Regions from separate parts of the Homo sapiens genome. Here region 2 is linked to region 1. A link means that fine-mapping ties the variant in region 1 to the expression of a gene that starts in the linked region. Tissue or cell type: coronary artery. Region 1 holds a variant in brackets; the other region holds the start of a gene. All regions are shown on one strand. Distances are from middle to middle.

Region 1 (8,261 bases):
TGAGGCAGGAGAATTGCTTGAACCCAAGAGGTGGAGGTTGCAGTGACCCAAGATCTGCCACTGCACTCCAGCCTGGGTGACAGACAAGACTCTGTCTCAAAAATAAATAAATAAATAATAACGGTTAGAATGATAAACTTTATGTATATTGTACCACAATAAGAAGTAATTTTTTAAAAGTGGTAGCTGAACTAGTTTTACGTGTATTAATAGAGATGGATTTCAAAACAGAGACAGAAGCATGTTGCAGAATAGGATGCCATATTTTTTAACAAAAATACTACCCAAAACAACACTAAATAAATCTGTTGTGCATTCATATGTATATATGTTAAAGAATAAAAATGGTCTGGAAAAATTCACACCAAGGAGTGTTAACAGTGGTCGCCCATGGGGAGAAAGGATGAACAGTTGGTGGCCAAGGAGAACTTAGTTTCTTTGTCCTAATTTATTTATTTGTAAAGGATGATGGCGTGGAAGACTAAATAATAATTCCCCAATTACACCCACATCCTCATGCCCTGCCAGCGTTGTTTTGTGTGGTACAAGGTCTTTGCAGGTCTGATTAAGCGAAGGGCCTTGCGGTGGGGAGTGGCGCCTGGGCTATCCAGGTGAGTCCAATGTCATCACAAAAGGCTTCCTAAGAGGGAGGCAGGAGCGTCAGGGTCAGAGGAGGCAATCTGAAAACAGGCAGAGATTGACCGAGGCCCCTAGAAGCTGGGAGAAAAGCAAGGGAGCTGATTCTCCCCTCTGAGTTTCCAGAAAGAACCAGGGCTGCCAACATCTTGACTTTAGGACTTCGTGATTTTGGACTTCTGACCTGCAGAACTGTAAGAGAAGAAATGAGTGTTGCTTAAGCCACTAAGTTAGTGGTTGTTTGTCACAGCATAGGAAATGAATACAGGATTCATAGCTTCCCTGTACAGTTAAACATTATGCAGTTATATAAATAGAAAGGCTTGGGAGGAGGGAGTAGATTTCGAGTGCATCAGATAAGGCACCCCCCTCTTGAAAGAAGAGCGTAAACTAGGTGGGTTTCTGTAGCACTGACGTTGAGGGCAACAGGTCCAGGAGGTGAAGAGGTGGGGGTGACTGAGGTGGGAGCTGACATAAGATCATTAGCATATGCAGAATCACCTCGAGAAGGACCGCAAGGTAAGAGCAGAATAAACTGGTATCTTCACACATTTTCTGCCTAAGACGAGACATGCAAAATTTCACAGTGATTAGAATGTTCCAGATTTAGTGCCTGGATTAACACCTTCTGCTGAGAAGAATCTTCACTTGAAAAAAAAAGAAGAAAACACCCTGCATGGAATTCAAAGGAAAAAAAAAAAAAAACACCAACGTTATTTTCAGCACTACTAGGGGAAAGGTAAATTCAGGCAACACCTGTTGAATAGGTTTCAAGAGTTTTTGGAACCAGCTATGGGTCAGCTAATGTCGCTAAGGAGTTATATTGATTTGTCCTTAGCTATATGATTGCAAAGTGACACGTTCCATATAAGTAGAGTGTGATCTCTCTTGCTTTAAAAAAAAAAAGTAAGTGGGTAGGAGGGTGGATATGAATATAGTTGCTTGAATAAGCACTGAAAAAACTTCTGGAAGGAAACACAAGTTGTTAATGGTTTTTGTTTGACCCCCTTATCTACTATTTGAATTTTATTTTATGCCATTTTATTATTATTTTTGAGACAGGGTCTCGCTCTGTCACCCAGGCTGGAGAGCAGTGGCACGATCATATCTCACTGCAGCCTCCAAATCCTGGGCTCAAGCAATCCTCCTGACTCAGCCTCCTAAGTAGCTGGGACTACAGGCATGTGCCACCATACCCAGGTAATTTTTTTTTTTTCGAGACAGGGTCTCCCTTTGTTGCCCAGGCTGGAGTACAGTGGCACGATCACTGCTCACTGCAGCCTCGACTTCCTGGGCTCAGGTGATCCTCCCATCTAGTCTCCCAAGTGCTGGAATTACAGGCATGCATCACCACGCCCGGCTAATTTTTGTATTTTTAGTAGAGACAGGATTTCACCATGTTAGCCAGGCTGTTCTCGATCTCCTGACCTCATGATCCACCCGCCTCGGCCTCCCAAAGTGCTGGGATTACAGGCGTGAGCCACCACGCCCAGCCCGTACATGTTTATCTTTTTAAAAATTCTAGAACCGAAACAAAACTGATCACTGTGGCTACCTCTGGGACATGGGTTCAATAGGGTTTGTTGTTAACTTTTCAGCTTACACACTTCTCACAGTTTAGACAGTTTTTACAGTAAACAAACGTTATTTTTAAGTATTTGGATGTTAATTTGTATATTTTATTATAAATAGTTCAAATTTATCAAAAGGAATAGATAATAATATAAGCCCATGACTCAGTTAAGAAATTCAAGGTGCAAATTACTTTTGTAACTAAAGAAGCAAGCAAACAAAAACCTATAAAGGTTTCCTAAAAAAAAACAAAACAAAACAAAACAAAAAACCACCTTGAGAGGGTTTCAGTTTCTAGTTTCTCTCTAGAGAATTTGCAAACCCAATGCCTGGAAATCCTGTCTTTGTACTTTTACCTATGTGTAAACCAACTCAAGTGTTATAACCACTTAGACGTAAGGTTTTTCAACATTGTCAGGGTTCGAGGTGAATGTTAGAGCTGAGTTAATTTCTTAGTGGATGAACCTAATCTTCTTGAAACTGTCAGGCTTATCGCAATGCATATAAGCAGAGAACAGGCTGTTGCCTCTGTGGTTTATCTGCGGTGTCAAGGCAAATCAGGCAAAAAATGCTGCAGGGCCACTTTCTGAAGGCTATTTTAATGAGGAAAGCAAGGTTCTGGGACTTGAAAACAGTTGGGGTCCTCTCTAGGGGTGACCAGAGAAATCATTCATAAGGGAAGCAAAAGCTAAGTGGTCTTGCCAGGCGCGGTGGCTCACGCCTGTAATCCCAGCACTTTGGGAGGCCGAGGCGGGCGGATCACGAGGTCAGGAGATCGAGACCATCCTGGCTAACACAGTGAAACCCCATCTCTACTTAAAATACAAAAAATTAGCCGAGCGAGGTGGCGGGCGCCTGTAGTCCCAGCTACTCGGGAGGCTGAGGCAGGAGAATGGTGTGAACCCCAGGGGGCGGAGCCTGCAGTGAGCCAAGATTGTGCCACTCACTCCAGCCTGGGCGACAGTGAGACTCCGTCTCAAAAAAAAAAAAAAAAGTTAAGTGGTCTTGCAGTTGTTCTCCCTGGCTGGGTTGATCAACACAAGAGGTAAAAATAGCTTTATCACCTCTTTTTAAATATGAAATAATGATGCAAAACAGAAGCATTTTTGTTGAGAGATAAAAAAAAAGAGCAAGATTAAGACCCCCATCTTCCTTTAAGTAAATAGTAAGAAAAGTGAATTTTCAGTAACACTCCAGCAGGGAGTTTAGTGAAAATCAGGCTGTGAAAATCTGCCCTGCTCTGTTTCATGGCATATCACCCAATACATTTTTATTTATTGTGGGTTGGTGCAGCACGTAAGTTTGGGTTTGCAGGATTTTATTATTTTTGTTGGTGACCATTTTGGTTTTGCCAGTGATATTTAATAAACTCTTTTTTGTTTTTCTTGAGGTTGTGAGCAGCTACATTTACATTAGTTATATTCGTTTTCTTCCTTTTAGTTAAAAAAAAAAATACAAAAATCCTTGGCCGGGTGTAGTGGCTCACTCCTGTAATCTCAGCACTTTGGGAGGCCAAGGTGGGTGGATCACCTGAGATCAGGAGTT[C/T]GAGACCAGCCTGGCCAACATGTTGAAACCCCGTCTCTACTAAAAATATAAAAACTAGCTGGGTGTGGTGGCATGTGCCTGTAATCCCAGCTACTCAGGAGGCTGAGGCATGAGAATCACTTGATCCTGGGAGGCGGAGGTTGCAGTGAGCTGAGATCATGCCACTGAACTCCAGCCTGGGCGGCAGAGCGAAACTCTGTCTCAAAAAAACAAAAACAAAACCAAAAAAAACTTCAATCCACAAGCATTGTTGTAACCTTAAAAAAAAAATCACTAACTTCTCCACTAACAACTTAAATACTTTGTTACCCTCGAGTCTTTGTCCTATAGAAATATAGCTTGTTCATTATAATCAGTCTGTATACACATTATACATGTGATATATATACACAGACACACACACATACAGAGAATGAGAGAGAGAGACAGAGAAAGAGACAGGGTCTTAATCTCTTGCCCAGGCTGGAGTGCAGTGGTGCGACCACAGCTCACTGCCGCCTCAACCTCCTGGGCCTCACCAATCCTCCCACCTCAGCCTCCCAAGTAGCTGGGACCACAGGCATGCGTCACCGTGCCGGGCTATTTTTTTTTAATTTTATATTTGTAGAGACAGAGTCTCCCTCTGATGCCCAGGATGGCCTTGAACTCCTGTACTCAAGGGATCCTCCCACCCCAGGCTTCCAAAGTGCTGGAATTACAGGTGTGAGCCACCATGCCCAGCCTACATTTATATTTTGCCTTTGTACCTTAACTCATGTTGCTTTTTCCACGTAGCTTCATAGTCTTTGCGTATCTTATTTTAATGGCTGAAAATATACCATTGATCAGATTTACTACAATTTACTTAACCATTCCCATAGTGTTGGACATTTAAGTTCTCATAATGTCATTTATTCACCCTCCCCTCCTATGACCATTCTATAGACCTCCGTCTTCCAGGCTGAAGTGACTCTCCTGCCTCAGCCTCCCAAGTAGCTGGGACTACAGGCATATGCCACCACACCTGGCTAATTCTTGTATTTTCGGTAGAGATGGGGTTTCATTACGTTGGCCAGGCTGGTCTCGAACTCCTGACCTCAAGCGATCCACCCGCCTTGGCCTACCAAAGTGCTGGGATTACAGGTGTGAGACACCAGGCCTGGCCCCCTACCTTTATAACACACCAAAATAACATCAACCCTAAATATAATTTTAAAAATACTATTCTATATTTGTATATCTTCTCTTGCTCTCCAAAGCAGAGACTGTATCTAAAACGATTTCTTTTTTCTGGATGACTAGTATGTAGGTCATTTTGGACATGTAGGTATTAGTACATGACAGTGACATGGTGGTGACATCAGGCTGTGAGTCCCCAGAGAAGCATGGCTGTTCCACCTGACACCTGGGGGAATAATTCCTCTAGTGCGCACACATAGTTTTGTAGCTATGTGTGCTATGCTATGGACACCTTCTTATTAATACATTTTTTCCCAGCGTCTCAAACTGGAAATTATTTCTGGATAAATCTACCAATGGGAGAGAAAGAATTCTAATCCCAAGGCTAGAAGATTTTTAGGTTCAACTATGCAAAGGTTGTGTGTGTGTGTGTGTGTGTGTGTGTGTGTGTGTGTGTGTGTGTTTTAAGTATGCTTGCCAAACAATTCCCAATATTGTGTAACAGGAGACTCATTGCTCAGACGGCAACAATGCTCCCATTGAGAGTGAAGCTCTGGCACATGCATACATTGCCCTTGATTCACCAGAGCAAACTCTTAGTTAACCCACAAGCATTACAAGCAGATGTAGGTGCATAAAGAAACCCAAATATCAGCCAACCGATAAAAGGAAAAAGACATGCAAATCCATCCATGCATTAAATTGACAGGTTTGACACTGATGCAAGGAAGCTTTGACATTTTCTTTTCTTCTCTCAATCCCCTTTAAGAATGACAAGAAGTTTTTAGAGCAGCAGAAAACAAGATGATTTTGTGGTTTGCTCTGTTTAACAAAGGAAGTGGTGTATGACTCCAATAGGTTGGTGGCAGATAGCAAGTATGAGAATAGTTATAAAAGGACTGGGCAAGGGTGGCAAGTGAGCCGTGTTTAAACTTAGTACGTTTAGAGGTCACTGTATATAGGTATGCCATTCTGAAGCCAGTTTTGTTCCTGGGGTATGTTCTTGGTTAAATCACATCATCCCTCTAGATTCTGGAGAGCTCTGACCCCTACCTTATTCTCACCTTCTGTGGGGACTATGAGAAATTCCTGGACATCTTAAGCCTCATAGAGAGGATTTCCTGGAAATAGAGCTACTATTCTCAATTTGACAGGTCTATTCTTCTCCTGGAGGGAGAAGGAAAAAAGAAACGCCAGCTTCCTACATCTCCTTCCCACTTGTGTCCTTTCCTCCTTAGAGCCATCTTTCTTCACCAAGTATAACAAGTTAGAAGGAAGAAAATTACCGAGTGTCCTTTTGAGCTCAATAAAACCTTTAGCTTGGCCGGGTACGGTGGCTCATGCCTGTAATCCCAGCACTTTGGGAGGCCAAGGTGGGCGGATCACGAGGTCAGAAGATCAAGACCATCCTGGCTAACACGGTGAAACCCCGTCACTACTAAAAATACAAAAAATTAGCTGGGTGGGGTGGCGAGTGCCTGTAGTCCCAGCTACTCGGGAGGCTGAGGCAGGAGAATAGCGTGAACCTGGGAGGCAGAGCTTGCAGTGAGCTGAGATTACACCACTGCACTCCAGCCTGGGCGACAGAGCAAGGTTCCGTCTCAAAAAAAAAAAAAAACAAAACAAAACAAACAAAAAAAAACCTTTAGCTTACGGATTATATGAAACATTTCTTTTGGCCGGGCGGGGTGGCTCAGGTCTGCAATCCCAGCACTTTGGGAGGCTGAGGTGGGCGGATCACTTGAGGTCAGGAGTTCGAGACCAACCTGGCCAACATGGTGAAACCCCATTTCGACTAAAAACACAAAAATTAGCTTGGCGTGATGGCGCATGCCTGTAGTCCCAGCTACTTGGAAGGCTGAGGCAGGAGAATCGCTTGAACCCAGGAGGCGGAGATTGAGGTGAGCTGAGATCGCACCACTGCACTCCAGCCTGGACGACAGAGCAAGACTCTGTCTCAAAAAATAAAAAAAGCAATAGTTCCTCTAACTTTCATCATTTTTCTGCAAACACGAGCCCTTAGTACAACGGGCTGGAAGGAGAGAAGAGGTTGGCAGAGCCCAGCCTAACGTATGGATGGAGAACACAGACCTTATGTTTTACCCATGGAGTTGCAGAAGAATCAGCTTTATACACAAAGCCCCTAAGTCTGCCGATAAGCATTTGCTGAATGCCTCGACTGTGTTCAGAGCTGAGTTATGAGACGAGGTCAGTGTGTTATGATGCCAGCGTGGTGGACGCCAGACTGGGAGCCAGGAGACCTGCCAATTACTTGATTTTCAGAAACAAAGCAAAAGCCCAAAAAATTTCCCCTTCTCAGGGCTTCAGTTCCCTTATGTGTAAAATTAGGGGGCTGTCATGGTTAACCTCAGCCTTAGGTTTCTTCTAACTAGAACTGTGACAGATTCCAAAGTAGGATAATGAGTTCCCAGGCTCCTGGATCTTAAGAGGCTTCCCGGTAGCTGAGAGACTGAGAGCGACTGCACCCTAAATCGTGTTGTTTCTGAAAGAGCACAGGTTGGCCCACCTGGATGTCTGGGCACCTTCCTCTGAGGTGATGCAAAGGGGCCACTCAATGGGTCCTTGCTCAAAATGCTCCAGCCTTACTGGCCTTCTTCCCATTCCTGAATGCACCAAGTTAGTCCTGTCCCAGGGCCTTTGCACGTGCTGGTTTTGCTGCCTTGAGCTTCCTACAGGAATGGTGGCTGGTTCCTCCCTTCTCATCCTTCACATTTCCTTAGACGCCACCTTCTCCGAAAGTGCCATCTCTTACTACCCTAAAGGTCTTTTTATTTTCTTATTTCAGTGTCCATTCCCTTATTTGTGATCGCCTAATTATTTTACTTATTTCTTGTTTTGTTTGCGTCCTCTTTCATTCTGTTAGCTCCATGTAAGCAGGGGTCCGTTTTGCTTTATTCAGAACTGTATACTCAATGCCCAGTACAGAGTAGGTCTCAAAACATATTTGTTAAATGAATGACGTGGCAGCTCCACAATTCCAAGTAACCAATGACACCTAAAGTTGTTTCCCCATGAAGTCTCTGTCTTTTGGGTTCCGTGCATCGGGCTGGGCTCACAGGCTGCGGGAACTTCCTTCCCACTGCCTGTTTTCCTTGGATCGCGGTATCTCTCTTCCTGGAGGAAAAAGGCTCTTATGACCTCATGGCGCGCTCTCCCGAGCCGCAGTGACGTCATTAATGCGCTCACGCGTCACAGCCCAATCATAGGGCCCTTCCCCTCCCTTTAGAAGTCCCGACTGTCCCTGACACATTCCACTCCAAGCGAGCCGCGACACTTACGTCACGTCCGCCCGCCCGCGCGGTGATGACGTCACGACCCAGGGCTGGCGT
Region 2 (8,000 bases), 860 kb before region 1:
AAGGGATGGAGAAGCGTTGCTTTTTCTTTTTATATGTAATTCTATGTTCTGTGAATTCATAAGAGAACATGTGTTATGGCAGTATTTGTGTAATTTCTTTAAATGTAAGGAAGTTACTAAATGATATGTACAGTACGATTCCGTTTTGTTTTTTCCAGAAGGAACACATGTACCTACTGCATCAGTATCTTGGGTATCTGCTGCCCGGAAGGACACCTCGCCTTTATTACCACCACCTGCCCCAGTATCTGCTTGTCTCCATTCCTATCATTTTTAACCAGGAGCAGAGAGAAATCTTGACCGGGGAAGGGGGGCAGAAAGAGGAAAAAAAAGGAAACAAAGGACACGCTGGGCTCTCTGCAGGTCCTCTGAACAGACCAGAACCACCTGTCCCCCAAAAATAATCTAGGGAAACTGTTCAAGGGTTATATGAGCCTGTAGGTTTAACAAGCAGAGAGTGAGTGACAACGTGTGGAGTTGGGGATGAGGTCTCTTCTCCCCACCTGGCCAGAACCCCCAACACCCGACGCCATCTGGCACCTCCAGAATCGGCAGCTTTGAGAGTTTCCAGAGACAGCATCTTCGGCGAGGAATCCATCAGCTTTTCACCATGAGGTGATAGTGGAGAAGGGACGGGAATGGAAGGGAAGACCAGGGACAGAGACAGCCCAGAAACGGGTCAGGGGGCGGGGTGGGGGAGTTCTGAGCTCCCTTTGGAGGGTCCAGGAATTAACCAGGGGGACCCTCTGAGGTGAGACTGAACTCTGCTTCCACACTGGATGACATTTGGGCTAAACACGTGCTAGTAAACACAGCAGACAACAGCCACCCCACCGTTAACAGAGGCCCTTGGAGGGCTTCTGCAAGAAATCCAAGTCACATCCATTGTTTTAGGGTCTTGTAATTTTTTTTTAATGTAAACGAAACCCGAGTTCCTGCAGTGGTGGTACATGTTAAACGGTCAATCCTGCGAGTGTGTTTTTGGTTTCCATAATTTCACTTGGTGCCAATGAAAGTGCCTACATCCGAGGTCCAGTTATAATCTAATGTTCAGGTCCAAAGGTCTGCCAGGGAGAAAAAAATAATAGGCTGGAAGGTTAAATTCCAAAACGTGATCACGTGGTCCTCTCTCCAGATGGCACTAGGGATTTGTTATTGTTGTTTATTTATGGTTTTGGATTTATGATGAAGGCGTTTTATTTTGTGCAAGCAAATAATGAATATTTAAAATAAATGAAGGTGGCCAAGCGCGATGGTTCACACCTGTAATCCCAGCACTTCGGGAGGCCGAGGTGGGCAGATCACTTTAGGTCAGGAGTTCAAGAGCAGCCCGGCCAACATGGTGAAACCCTGTCTCTACTAGAAATACAAAAATCAGCCAGGCATGGTGATGGGTGCCTGTAATCCCAGCTACTTGGGAGGCTGAGTCAGGAGAATTGCTTGAACCAGGGAGGTGGAGGTTGCAGTGAGCCGAGATTGCACCACTGCACTCCAGCCTTGGCGACAGAGCTAGACTCTGTCTCAAAAAAAAAAAAAAGAAGTGGCCAGGTGCCAGATGGCTAACACCTGGAATCCCAGCACTTTGGGAGGCCGAGGCGGGAGGATCACTTGACCTCAGTAGTTTGAGACCACCCTGGGCAACATGGTGAAACCTGTCTCTACCAAAAATATAAAAATTAGCCAGGCATGGTGACGCATACCTGTAGTCCCAGCTACTCAGGAAGCTGAGGTGGGAGAATCACTTGAGCCCTGGAGGCAGAGGTTGCAGTGAGTCAAGATCGCACCACTGCACTCCAGCCTGGGTGACAAAGTGAGACCCTATCTCAAAAAAAAAAAAAAAAAAGTTAAAAAATAGAATACAATAAATGAATCTGCCTGGTACCTTTAAAAAAAAAATCAAAGGTCTGCCGGCCCTGCCACCCGAACCCAGTGAGAGGCCCTGCAAGGGATCCCCAAGTCCTTAAGGGGCTGGAAAAGTAGCCCAGGAGACTGGACAGCCAGGCAGGAGGTCCCGGTAGCTGTGCTCCAGCTGGTGCTCCTGCGAGGAGGCGGCTTTCGAGGTCCCAGTCTCCTTCTAGCTGTTTCTGAAGCGAGTTGTCCTGCCTCCTCCTCTCACCTGTGCTGGCCCCTCCCTGCCCTCTCAGTGTCCCTGGCCTATCAGAGAGTAGGTGGGGCTGGGGATCCGCCTCCACAGAGGGTTCTGGGACCCTGGTCACTGTCTTTTTGTATTTGCGATGCTAATTTGTTCAACATAAACATTTAAAGTCTACTGTAGTTTTTAAACTTTGTCCTAGCCTTATTTTACTTTTTAGGATATAAGGAGCCTCCAGAAGTAGAAAGGGGTGCTCTTCGGACCCTCCGTGAGAGGCTGCGACCGTCAAGGAGAGTGACAGTGACCTGGGTCCCTGCCACACCTGGGCATGGCTCTACCCAGCCGTTCGGATTATTGCACAGTGGATCTTGACGCCCCGTGGGCCTTGGGCAGGTTACTTAACCCCCTCCGTGCCAGTTTGCTCATCTGTAAAATAGGGATGAGGATACACCCGCCTCGTAGGGTTAAGGAGTTGATACAAGCGTTGGAACCGCACCTGGCACGGGGTGCGGGCTAAGTCAGTGTTTGCTGTGATTTTTCAATCAAGGCCTGACTTTCAAGTGGGCTGTGGGCCCAGGAGGGCAGGGACGGCTGTGATTGCTGGGTTCGCCCGGGGCCTGCACGTGGCGGGCGGCAGCGTTTGTGGACAGCACCTGAGGCCGGGGCCGGACGATGGGCAGGCTCTAGCAGCCCCGGCGCCCGCCGGAGAGGCCGGGACGGGCAGGAGGGAAGCCCGGGGAAGGGAGCGGCGCGTCGAGGCTCACCAATCTCCACCTCCACCTCCTCCGGCACCATAGTGCGGTAGATGAAGAGCGCCGAGGGCCCCTCCTCCTCGCTCGCCTGGTTGAGGAAGTGCAAGATGAGGTCCTCGCCCTGGCCGTCGTCGCGGTTGAGCAGGTCCTCGAAAAGCTGGGGGTCGGTGATGCCGAAAGCCGCATACACGCGGTCGCGCATCCACAGCACCCGCAGGTCGTCCATGGCGCCGCGCAGTGCAGAGGGAGCCGGGCGCAGGGCGGGCGTCCGTGGCAACGGCGGCCCTAGCAATGGGCGCCCCGGAAACGGCCGCAGCTCGCCCCGCCGACGGCGCCGGCGCTGGGGGCTGCAAGCTCGGCAGTGCCCCGCGCCCGGCCCCTCGATCCCGAACCCGCGAGCCGCAGCCCACGCCCCGGCCCCGGGATCTCGGAGGCGCGCACCAGGCCCCCGGGCCGCCGAGGTAGGCTGGTTGCTCCCTGGCCCCGGCAGCGCGCACGCCCCTGGATGCGGAGCGGGACCCTCGCCGCCAGGAGCCGCCCTCGGGCCGCTGCAGCCGAGGGTGCGACCCCACCCCACGCCGACCGGTTTGCAAGCAGCCCGCCCACCTTGCAGATGAAGCTGGGGCTAGAGAGTTGGCGAGACGAAGGTCACAGCACCTCGGCGGTGGCAGAGGCGGGATTAGAGGCCAGACGAGGAGGAAATAAGCCGAGAAAGCACGAGTTCCTCATGGCCTACAAAATCAGGGAAGGAGCAGAGTTCTTTAGCTTTCTTGCCAAACTAGAGCATAATAAAGCAAAACACCCACGTTTAAAAATATAGATATATTTATTTGTCATTAGCAAAAGGAAGTTAAATACTGATAGAAGATGCAAATTTGTCCTTTCATGCATTTGTGGAGCAAAGTACTAACTTGTTCACTGTCATTTCCCCTCACAAGGAGTTGAGCCCCTAGATGACTCAGGCTAACCCTAAGAACCTACCTAGCCTTCTTAGATATTCCCATCAAAGAACAGGTGGAGTGTACTAAGTATTTCTGAAAATTCTAAACCAAATCAGCAAAAATGGCCTGACTGTGGGAAGACTGTTCGTTCAAACTGCCTTATTCCCATCATCTTGATTTGACAGCTTCATAATAACCTTCCTGGATATATTCCCTGTGGCACGCAAGCAAACCCGGCTTTACGTTTTTAATAGAGGAATTTATTGTTTTAAATGCGGACTGTAGAATAGGTGTAGAAGTTGTTTTTCTTTTCCAAAATGTATCAGGCTCTAAAACGTCTGAATATGTAATTCATGGACATCGTAAGGCTGACCTATGCTACAGGTATTCTGTGCCTTATTAAACAACTGCAGAGGGCCAGGCGCGGTGGCTCACGCCTGTAATCCCAGCACTTTGGGAGGCCAAGGTGGGTAGATCACCTGAGGTCAGGAGTTTGAGACCAGCCTGGCCAACATGGTGAAACCCTGTCTCTACTAAAAATACAAAAATTAGCCGGGCACTGTGGCAGGCGCCTGTAATCCCAGCTACTCGGGAGGCTAGGGCAGGAGAATTGCTTAAACCCAGGAGGCAGAGGTTGCAGTGAGCCGAGACTGCACCACTGCACTTCAGCCTAGGTGACAGAGTGAGACACTGTCTCAAAAAAAATAAAAAAATTTTTAAATAAACAACTGCTGAGGGGATGCTGACACCAGAATGTTGTTATAAAATATCCATTCCAGAAACAGAGCAGCATTCAGCGAAAGAGGAGTTCCAAGTCCTTTCGCTGCTGGAAAGTCCGCAGGGCTCACCCAGATCCTATCAGACAGAACACCCTTTGCACTCCTTAACTGACCACGGCAATTACAGTCTCCAGCCCAGCAGGTTGAATCAAAGTCTAGTTTACTGAAGAAATCCCTTGGGTTTTAAGATTCTGTTAACACATGGTAATAAACATCTAAATAAAAACTGAGAAATGTCGTGTCGTGACATTTATCTTTAGGAAAATAAACATATTCAGTATCATCCACACAACTTGCCATCTGTGCTCTGGATCTCTGCTATCAAGGGAATGAAGTATGTTTTAAAAACTGGATACATAATAGGTTCTAGCAAAAGCCTTAACAAACAAAACTGAGCGATAACTCTGGTAACATGACACTGGAGCCCATCGCTTTATAGAGAAACAAATTCCCGTGGCCCCTATAAGACACTATTATCAAACTACATTTCCAGAGAGCGCTTTCCCAGAGTTAGGATTCTGAATTCGCTTTTCATATAATGACATTCTACATAAATACTACATAGATTTCAACAGAGAAATGACTGCATCCTCTGCTCTATGCTGAGAAGAGGTGTTAATTAGAAAGAGTTAAAAAAGTGGCCCCATGAGAATTACTAGTGGGGAGCAGTAAACAATTCCCGTGAATATCGTGTCCCTTATTTACCAATCAGCTAACAGTGCCCTGAAGTCTTGGGCTTCCTAGGGATGAAGTAGTTACCATTGTTTTTATGACAGACCCCTGGAGCAAAGTAACACAAATGTCCCCTTGTGGAAGCATCAGCTCTAGGTGAAAGCAACTCTGAGACCTGACCAGCACTGCTGGGATGTCATAGTCACCCAACACAAGTGCCCGACATGACACCTTTCTAGGGAAGCATAACTTTGAGAGCAGAATCATTTTCAAGCATTTCATCGGCATCATTTGATAATTTAATATGAGGGACAAAAAGCAGTAAGTCCAAACTGGCCTTGGGTAACATCTCATCAAGTAGCACACAGAATCTGTACTGTAATTGAAAGGGTTTAATTGTAAGTCACGGCTGTGTCAACGCTGTTCAGCTCATGCCTTGAAATCAGCTGCACAGCCACGTTAAACTCAGCACCTCCAGACTCTCAGCTTGTAACAGAAGTGCCAAGCTCTCTACCTCGAAACAGGATAGAGGAGGATGCGGGCAAATAGCCTTTTAACGTGTATCACTCACAATGTCAAGAAGGTGAAAAAAAGTCAGGTTTCTTTTTGAAAATAATTGTCTAAAATCAAACTAAAATATGAAAAATTAACATAATTTGCAAGAATATAGGTCAAAATGTTCAATAGGACTGACTCAAGTTCACAAAAAACCAAATGTCAAACAGATGAATTTAAACTAAAGATTATAAAACAATGGCTATTAAGAATTAGTTTTCAACTGATCTAAACAGTGTTTGAAAGTTTAAATTAACTCAATACTTTTATCAGAACTTTAGCTAGAAACAGTCTGAAAGTAAAAAAAGTATCATTAGACTGTTCTCAAGGATAAGTGCAATCTCTTCATGGTAAAATATCTTCATTTATATTTAGACTGTTCTCAAGGATAAGTGCAATCTCTTCATGGTAAAATATCTTCATTTATATTTTGTTACAAAAATATACAAAATACTACTTTTTACCTTTCCTTCACTCAGTATAAACCCTTCTGGTTCAGTGACATCAGCCAAGCTGTCACTAAATTCAAATCATGTCCGCATTATATCTTCTACAGTCACACTGGGTTTTAAGGCTCAGCATACAATTTATCTTCCAAACATACAATTATCATAACTGGTTTTATGTAAGGGTAACAGGATAAGAGTCTTTAAAAAAATATACAAGTGGGATAACCATTTGTTGTATGTCATTTTATCCCATTGTCCCCAATTACTAAAACAAGACAAAATTGTAAAAACAATCCTCTACTTGTAATTCTAGGTAGCACAGGATAAAAAATATTTGCATATTTTGGCCAGGCATGGTGGCTCACGCCTGTAATCCCAGCACTTAGGGAGGCCGAGGCAGGTGGATCACTTGAGGTCAGAAGTTCGAGACCAGCCTGGCCAACATGGTGAAACCCCATCTCTACAAAAATACAAAAAAATTAGCTGGTCACGGTGGCGCATGCCTGTAATCCCAGTTACTCGGGAGGCTGAGACAGGAGAATCACCTGAATCCAGGAGGCGGAAGTTGCAATGAGACACGATCGTGCCATTGCACTCCAGCCTACGTGACACAGCAAGACTTCATCTCAAAAAAAAAAAAAAAGTACATATTTTTAAATCCAGCAGAATAAATGTGAATGTTTTGATTACCCATCATTAAATTTTTTAAAAAACTATCCCTACTTCAGCTGTTGGAAAATATTATCTGGCAACTTCAGGTGACAGATTAACTCTGTTGTTTGTTTTAAATAAAGTTTAAAGGAAATAAGTATCTAATACCATTTTCAACTAGCCATGCAAAATTGGCTTCTCTCCCCAAATCCTGTATTTGAAAAAATAACTTTAACATAACGTTTGGCATTAACTTATATTTGCTCATCATAAAAAACCAAAAGAAATTTTTATATCTCAAATTGGTAAACTTTACAAAATATTTAACATATGAGGAAGAGGTATATCTTACAGAATTATTTGGCTATGTCATAAGGCAGTAATGAAGATGGAATTTTTCCTATCATAAATCTGACATAAGTGAAAGTCTATAACATGGTCATTCTCCATAAATCTGAAAGCTTGTTGGTTACAGCAATATGATCATGCCACACTGTCGTCGTTATTGAACTTTGATGAAAGTAGACTGAATGAGAAAGGAACAAATTTGGTGCCTGCACCAACGTAGAATTTGTTCTGAAATTCTACCCTAAAAAAAAAAAAAGCCATGTATTAATGGAAGATTATGAAATCACATTCCTTAAAACAACATTTATAAGTTAAAAAAAAAAATTCCTGTGCTGAAATTGCTTCATTCCAAAATATGTTCTTGGCACATATATTTTTACTTAGCTAAACACTGCCCCGCACCCCCAACCCCGTGCTGGCTTTCCCAGTGTGAACAGAAACTCTGACACATCCGCTGTCTCTCACTGCCCAACACACAAAAGCACGTGCACAAGTAACGAGACCCTCTCCTGCCACTTGAGTCACTGGAGGCACAGAGCAGTAATCTGACCTACACCATAAAACATTAAGAAATACATAAGAAGGATTTATCTTGCAATAAGACAGAGCAACCTGTCAGACCCAAAGTGAATTAGGAGTATGAAACATACGTTAGTATTCTGCAAACTTAAACTTACTTTTACTTGTCAGTGATAATAGTTCAGAATCAAAATACATTTTTTTTTTTTGACACAGAGTTTCGCTCGTCCCCCAGGCTGGAG

The links. PIP is the estimated chance that this variant, and not a neighbour inherited with it, causes the effect.
Region 2: it holds the start of DNAH10, and the variant in region 1 is fine-mapped to the expression of DNAH10 in coronary artery (GTEx, PIP 0.97).

What each region holds. Positions count from the first base shown.
Region 1 is chr12:122,896,164-122,904,424 of GRCh38, reverse strand. No RefSeq gene overlaps it. Among named protein-coding and RNA genes, the nearest start is that of VPS37B, 4.2 kb to the right of the region's middle. RefSeq lists a silencer at 8,158-8,261. The variant C/T (reference allele first, on the strand shown) is at 3,754.
Region 2 is chr12:123,757,407-123,765,406 of GRCh38, reverse strand. DNAH10 (dynein axonemal heavy chain 10) reads right to left here and starts at 3,106. Exons shown (of 79, transcript NM_001372106.1): 1 at 2,857-3,106. The coding sequence starts at 3,070. ATP6V0A2 (ATPase H+ transporting V0 subunit a2) reads right to left here. Exons shown (of 20, transcript NM_012463.4): 20 at 3,652-7,480. The coding sequence ends at 7,375. LOC105370044 (a long non-coding RNA gene) reads left to right here. Exons shown (of 5, transcript XR_945481.4): 5 at 159-239. RefSeq lists a silencer at 3,106-3,525.